2 linked regions of the Homo sapiens genome follow. The protein of the gene in region 2 purifies or fractionates together with the protein of the main gene of each other region. This does not show direct contact. Each region holds a gene or a part of one and is shown on either strand. Other genes may lie near its edges.

Region 1 (3,500 bases), on a different chromosome or scaffold from region 2:
TGGGACTAGAGGCATGCGCCACCATGCCTGGCTAATTTTTGTATTTTTAGTAGAGACGGGGTTTCGCCAGGCTAGGCTGGTCTCGAACTCCTGACCTCAGGTGATCCACCCGCCTCGGCCTCCCAAAGTGCTGGGATTACAGGTGTGAGCCACCGCACCCGGCTGAAATTTTCTACTCTGTGATTCTTTATGGCAAATTTTCAATTTCAGGGCAGCTTCTCCTTTTCTACCTAACACACTTCTACTACTTTTACCCCACTGTCCTGTGGCTGGTATCTCAAAAGAGTTTTATATTGACCCAATGAGGGAGAGCCTACTTTGAGACACGCTTTCGCGAACAAATTTCATACAGAAGCAACGACTAAATTTCTTTATCATCATGGGTTTTAGCCTACCAGCAAAGACAATTAATTAAGTACCCTAACGAGATGAAGTACTTCTTTAAGGACAACCTCCTTTAAAAGACTTCTTCACTGCCAAAATCACAGCAGAACATATCCCTGGGTCTGAGCAAGTCCTAGAAAAATGAATCATGTCTCTAAGTTTATTTCAAATGCTGCTCTTCCCTCACACAAACCTGGAAACATGTTGGATAGCAGGAAAACAGAATAATCAGTTTGGGGGTACTTTCTCAACTTCAACCTGCACGTGTTCTCTGTCCCAGAGAAGTTCAGACCACTATAAAAACACCAATCCAAAATATGCGAGAAGATGTCCACACTGAGTTTTCAGCCCCCAAAGGCAACTAAAATGGGAACTCTATGAAGCAAAACCTCAGAAGCATCCAGAAAGAAGATGCACTAGAAACTCATTTCATATCTAATGTGATTTCCAATCTCAGACATTTGTCATTATTAAAATATTATAATCAGGTCAGGCATGGAGGCTCATGCCTGTAACCCCAGTGCTTTGGGAGCCACAAGAGGACGACTGCTTGAGGACAAGAATTCAAGACCAGCCTGGGCAACATAGTGAGATACCTGCCTCTACCAACAAAACAAAACAAAACAAAAACAAACAAAACAAAACAAAAATGAAACCATAATGATCACCACCACCACCACCGCCACTGCCTTCAAAGCAACTTATTGCAAGACTCAAATTAAGACACCCCAAATCTTGAATGGCACAGACCTGCAGCCTTTCTCAACCTGTTCAGGAGAGAAAATAAGGCCTTAACACCCCAAGAGAGTGGTTCTGAAACTGCAGTATGCACCACAATCATCTGGAGAGCTTGTAAAAAACAGATTTCTGGGCCGGGCACGGTGGCTCATGCCTCTAATCCCAGCACTTTGGGAGGCCAAGGTGAGTGGATGATGAGGTCAAGAGATCGAGACCATCCTGGCCAACATGGTGAAACTCCGTCTCTACTAAAGATACAAAAATTAGCTAGGTGTGGTGGTGCACGCCTGTAGCCCCAGCTACTTGGGAGACTGAGGCAGGAGAATCGCTTGAATCTGGGAGGCAGAGGTTGCAGTGAGCCAAGATCGTGCCACTGCACTCCAGCCTGGCGACAGAGCAAGACTCCGTCTCAAAACAAACAAAAAACAACAACCAAAAAAACCAGATTTTTGGCCCCAACCCCAGAGTTTCTTTTGTAGGTCTAAGATAGGGCCCCAGAAACTGCTCGGCTACAAGTTCCCAGATGCTCAGGGCCACACTCTTAAGAGAACCACTTCTCAAAGGTTACCACTGTAATAAATTAACTTCTCCCCTCTGCATCTAGAATGATACTAGTCACATACCATCCTGAGGAGATTTGAGAAGAGTCACTCAATCATTTTCTGTGTTCTGTAGTTCAGATGAGGGACTCCGGTTGATAAAGGCTGACCTAGAGTAATTATCTGCTAACAACCGACTTGGCTACTTAAAAGTCTCCTCTTACCCTAGAATACTCAAGCAGACTTTCCCATTGCGGTAGAAGTTGGGGTTAAACCTCACTGTGTTATTGCCCGTTGTCATCAGTTTGACCCGAGGTGGGTGGATGGGATAGTCGGGCGGACACCGAAACACGAACAGGAAGAAACCCCCTTCATAAGGAGTGTCAAATGGGCCTGTGATCAATGCATGAATCTGCAAAATAAAACCCCATCTCAAAATTGTGAGGTGATGACCCACCCCAAGCCCTCCTGGCTACCCTCCACCTACTACCCACACCAGAAGCAGAGTCCATAATCTGGTACACATGTTCTATATCCTCACCATGCAGAAGGAACATCCTGTATTCACTCATACTAATACGTAGGTTTGGAATTTTAAGAAATCTCATTACAGTGGAATGACATCTTACTCAGGGGTTACTTCTAAAGTTAGAGCCCAAGGCGAAAACTGAATCTAGTCAAAATCACTCTTGAGTATCCCCTAAAACTCTCTTAAAGCATTTTTTTTTTTTGTGCAGACCTCCCTGATCAGTGTTACATATAATGGATAAAACACCACTGTGGAAAAATATAATATGCTTATCTATAAAATATAACCCTAGCGTTTTTAATTTTGAGAAATCGACACAGATTTTGACTGAATATATGTTTGGATTTGCCCAGGCCAAACATGCATATGATGCAACCCCACCCTACATTTATGTGGCACGAAGGGAAAGTATGATGAAAGGAGACGAAGAAAGGGATTGGAGGCCACAGCCCAGTGCCAGTAACACAGCAGGGTTAGGGGGTGTGATGGATGCCTAGGGTATCTGCTTGCTTCCTCTGCAGAGGATCAAACCTATTGTGGAGGATGTGGCTCAGGCAGCACATCATGACTGAAAATGGGGAAGACTCAGGGTCCACTCAGAGCCATTAGACCAGTCCCAGAACTTTCCCCAATACTGTTTAAAAAAAAAAAAAAAAAAAAAATCAGCCGTCCTGAAAACGACACTAAATTCTCTTCCCCCTCAAGCCATAATTCTTCAACAGGATTTCCCCCCCTGAAGGGAGGAAAACCTGAACTGACTCAGTTATATTTCTTCTTCCACAAAGGCTCCTAGGCATTTAGGTCTGCTAAGCATTTGAACAGCAAAAGGAAAGGGACGTGGCAATCCAATGCCTAAGTCTATAGTTCCCACCTTGCCCTCCTGGCAAGACCCTACGTCATATTCTGGCTCTCAGTCATTTGGAATAGTAAACTCAACTGGTCTCAACATGGCATCAACTCTGGGACCCCAGGTACTAGGCTATTAACACTGGTACTTGACTGAGGACGAGATGTCCTAGGAAAAACATTTCTAACTACATAAAAAAAAAATATGAAGGGAAATCTATTCAAAACAACAAAAAAAGATACACCAACAATACAAAATCTGAATTTTTACTGTAAGAAATTTACTGTAAGAAAACTATGTGTTTCACTTAAACAGCATTAGGTTTAGGAAATATGATTTCTTTCTAACATCAGTTTAAGTGCAACTGCACTTCTGTGGGTAGAGCATTCAGTGACAGAGAAACCTAGGTATCTATGCCAGAGAAATGTGACATTATGTATTAAGCTTTCTCTCTGAGAGGAGG
Region 2 (4,024 bases):
AGGCAGCTCCCACCATGGCCGGCTAATTTTTTGTGTTTTTAGTAGAGATGGGGTTTCATCATGTTGGCCAGGCTGGTCTCGAACTCCCGACCTCAAGTGATCTACCTGCCTTGGCCTCCCGAAGCCCTGTGATTACAGCCATGAGCCACTGAGCCTGGTCAGCTTTTTTATTTCTAAGAGTCAGAGTCTCACAATGTCACCCAGGCTGGAGTGCAGTGGCTTGATCATGGCTCCCTGCAGCCTCCAACTCCTGGACTCAAGCCATCCTTCCCCCTCATCCACACTGGGATTACAGCTGCAAGCCACTACACCTGGCTCAATCAACTACTTCCTATGAATGTTTCACTTCTGACCTTTTATGAATCCCCTCAACTTAAAATCCAAAGGAGTCACATATTATGTAATTCCATTCATATTAAATTTCTAGAATAGGGAAATCTATAGGAACTGAAAATAGATTAGTGGTTATTTCAGGTTGATAGCTAAAGGGTAAAAGGTTTCAGAGTGATGAAAATGTTCAAAAATTGACTGTGATGGCCGGGCACAGTGGCTCACGCCTGTAATCCCAGCACTTTGGGAGGCCGAGGCGGACGGATCACGAGGTCAAGAGATCGAGACCATCCTGGCCAACTTGGTGAAACTTTGTCTCTACTAAAAATACAAAAATTAGCCGGGCATGGTGGCGCACGCCTGTAGTCCCAGCTACTCGGGAGGCTGAGGCAGGAGAATCTCTTGAACCCGGGAGGCGGAGGTTGCAGTGAGCCGAGATCCCACCACTGCACTCCAGCCTGGGCAACAGAGTGAGACTCCGTCTCACAAAAAAAACAAAACAAAACAAAAATTGACTGTGATGATAGTTGTACAACTCTGTGAATCTATTTCAAGAAACCACTGAACAGTACACTTTATTTTTTTTAATTTTCTTTTTTTTTTTTTTTTGAGATGGGGTCTTGCTCTGTCTCCCAGGCTGGAGTGCAGTGGCACAATCACAGTTCACTGCAACCTCTGCCTTCTGGGTTCAAGCGATTCTCCTGCCTCAGCCTCCTGAGTAGCTAGGATTACAGGCGTGCACCACCATGCCCAGCTAATTTTTTGTATTTGTAGTAGAGATGGGGTTTTGCCATGTTGTCCAGGCTGGTCTTGAACTCCTGACCTCAGGTGATCCACCCTCCTTGGCCTCCCAAAGTGCTGGGATTATAGGTGTGAGGCACTATGCCCACCCCTATTTTTTAAATTTTTATTTATTTTTTCTGACAGGGTCTCATTCTGTCACCCAGGCTGACGTGCAGTGCCATGATCATAGTTGGAGTACAGTGGTGCAATCACTGTAGCCTTGACCTCCTGGGCTCAAGCAATGCTCCTGCCTCAGCCTCCAGAGTAGCTAAGATGACAGGCATGTGCCACGACACTCAGCTAATTTTCTATTTTTGTAAAGAGGTCTCACTATGTTGCCCACGCTGGTCTCAAACTCCTGGGCTCAAACGATCCTTCCACCTCAGCCTCCCAGAGTGTTGGGATTACAGGCATGAGCCTCCGTGTACAGCCTGAACTGTACACTTCAAATGGGTGAACTGTATAAGTATATGAATTGTATCTCAATAAAACAGTTTTTATCATATTTATTTATTTGTTTTTGAGACGGAGTCTCACTCTGTGGCCCAGGCTGGAATGCAGTGGCACGATCTCAGCTCACTGCAACCTCCGCCTCCCGGGTTCAAGCAATTCTCCTGCCTCAGCCTCCCAAGTAGCTGAGATTACAGGCTTGGGTCAACATGCCTGGCTAATTTTTGTATTTTTAGTAGACACAGGGTTTCATCACGTTGGCCAGGCCAGTCTCAAACTCCTGACCTCAAGTGATCTGGCCTCCTTGGCCTCCCAAAGTGGTGGGTGACAGGCGTGAGCCACCGCGCCCAGCTAAAGAGATTTTTAAAAATCAAATAAAATCAAAGAGAGGTTGGATGGAAAAAAAGAAAATTAACATGTACTGAACTACACTCTATGCGCCGATGCTTTTACGATCACCCAATTTAAAACCTACACACCCTCCAAGGGAAATATTATTTTCCGTGAAAGGACACAGAGAGCATGGGAGCCTGCTGGTGGGTGTGCAGATGGTTTAAGGAATGGCAGAGGCTGCAACCGCAGTGGAGGAGCAGAAAGGCAAACAGAAGAAAGGCCCCATGAGGGGAAAATAAGATGGGTGACCCACATGTCCCAGGTGGGACAGTCCTAGTCCACACCCACCCTGCCAGTGAAATTATTAACAATGCTCCCTTCATTCTCAAGTGCCTGGAAGATGAATTATAAGATATTTATGTATGGGTTGTTGTGTGTGAAATGCACACACAAAATTACTAGAATCATGGCACCCCACGTCCTTAAAACAACCTCCAAACTCAGAGAGGTCTCTCCCTGACGCCGACCAAAAGGCAATCAAAACACCGATCTCTTAACTCAATGCTTAAGTCTGCATACTTTATTTAGCATGAAGAAAAATGGTCAAAACAATCATGCAATCCATTTCCTGTGAAATAAAAAAAAAAGTTTTAAATAAAAATTCTTCTTTTTTTTTTTTTGAGACAGAGTTTTGCTCTTGCTGCCCAGGCTGGAGTGCAGTGGCTTGATCTTGGCTCACTGCAACCTCTGCCTCCCGGGTTCAAGCGATTCTGCTGCCTCAGCCTCCTGAGTAGCTGGGACTACAGGCCCGTGCCACCATGCCCAGCTAATTCTTTGTATTTTTAGTAGAGACAGGGTTTCACCGTGTTAGCCAGGATGGTCTTAATATCCTGACCTTGTGATCCACCCGCCTTGGTCACCCAAAGTGCTGGGATTACAGGCGTGAGCCACCACTCCTGGCATGCCCAGCGAATTTTTGTACTTTTAGTAGAGACGAGGTTTCCCCATATTGGTCAGGCTGGTCTTGAACCCCTGACCTCAGGTGATCCACCTGCCTCAGCCTCCCAAAGTGCTGGGTTTACAGGCATGATCTACCACGCCTGGCCGAAAATTCTTTTACCTGATGTAAACTAGACTAGATGAGGATTATGTTTTTTTTATTTATTTATTTATTTATTTATTTATTTATTTATTTATTTTGAGACGGAGTCTCGCTCTGTTGCCCAGGCTGGAGTGCAATGGCGTGATCTCAGCTCACTACAATCTCCACCTCCCTGGTCAAGCGACTATCCTGCCTCAGCCTCCTGAGTAGTTGGGACTACAGGCGCCCGCCACCACGCCCAACTAATTTTTGTATTTTTAGTAGAGATGGGATTTTGCCATGTTGGCCAGGCTGGTCTCGATCTCTTGACCTCCTGATCCACCCGCCTCAGCCTCCCAAAGTGCTGGGATCACAGGCGTTAGCCACCGTGCCTGGCCGATTTTTTTTTTTTTCTTTTTTGAGACAAGGTCTCACTCTGTCACCCAGGCTGGAGTGCAGTGGTGCACTCTCAGCTCACTGCAACTTCCCCATCCCGGGCTCAAGCAATCCTCGTGCCTCAGCCTCCTGAGTAGCTGGGACCACAGGCACGTGCCATCATGCCCAGCTCATTTTCTGCATTTTTTTTTTTTTAATAGGAGGTTTCACCATGTTGCCCAGGCTGGTCTCAAACTCCTGACCTCAGGTGATCTGCCACCTTGGCCTCCCAAAGTGTTGGGATTACAGGTGTCAGTCACCTGCCTGGCCCCTGTGAATTCTGACATATATAAAGTTACATAGGTAAAATTAAGGTATAAAACAGTTCTGTCATCCCCAGAATATTATACCACAATAATCCCTAAACAAGCTCTGATGTCAAAAGTCTGCTTTTTTACAAAAAAGAAAATAAAAATAAAAACACAAACAAAAATAGAAATAAAAAAATTGAAAAAACCGAAGAATAAAATAATAGGCAGGATGATACCACGTGGAATTCAAAAAAAGATACTATCAGTTGGCGTCAACTATGCTACCAGTAATCATTTAAAAAACAAGTGTTTCATAATAATTATTATCATTTTTTTGAGGCAGGGTCTCACTCCGTCACCC

What was found.
Region 1: the proteins of GTF2IRD2 (region 2) and UBE2Z purify together in Homo sapiens (affinity purification with mass spectrometry; one large-scale study listed by BioGRID and IntAct). This does not show direct contact.

The regions. Positions count from the first base shown.
Region 1 is NC_000017.11:48,911,407-48,914,906, reverse strand, and holds part of UBE2Z (ubiquitin-conjugating enzyme E2 Z), read right to left. Parts: intron 2,074-3,500; coding exon 1,886-2,073; intron 1-1,885. UniProt on the Homo sapiens protein: Catalyzes the covalent attachment of ubiquitin to other proteins. Specific substrate for UBA6, not charged with ubiquitin by UBE1. May be involved in apoptosis regulation.
Region 2 is NC_000007.14:74,841,309-74,845,332, forward strand, and holds part of GTF2IRD2 (general transcription factor II-I repeat domain-containing protein 2A), read right to left. Parts: intron 1-4,024.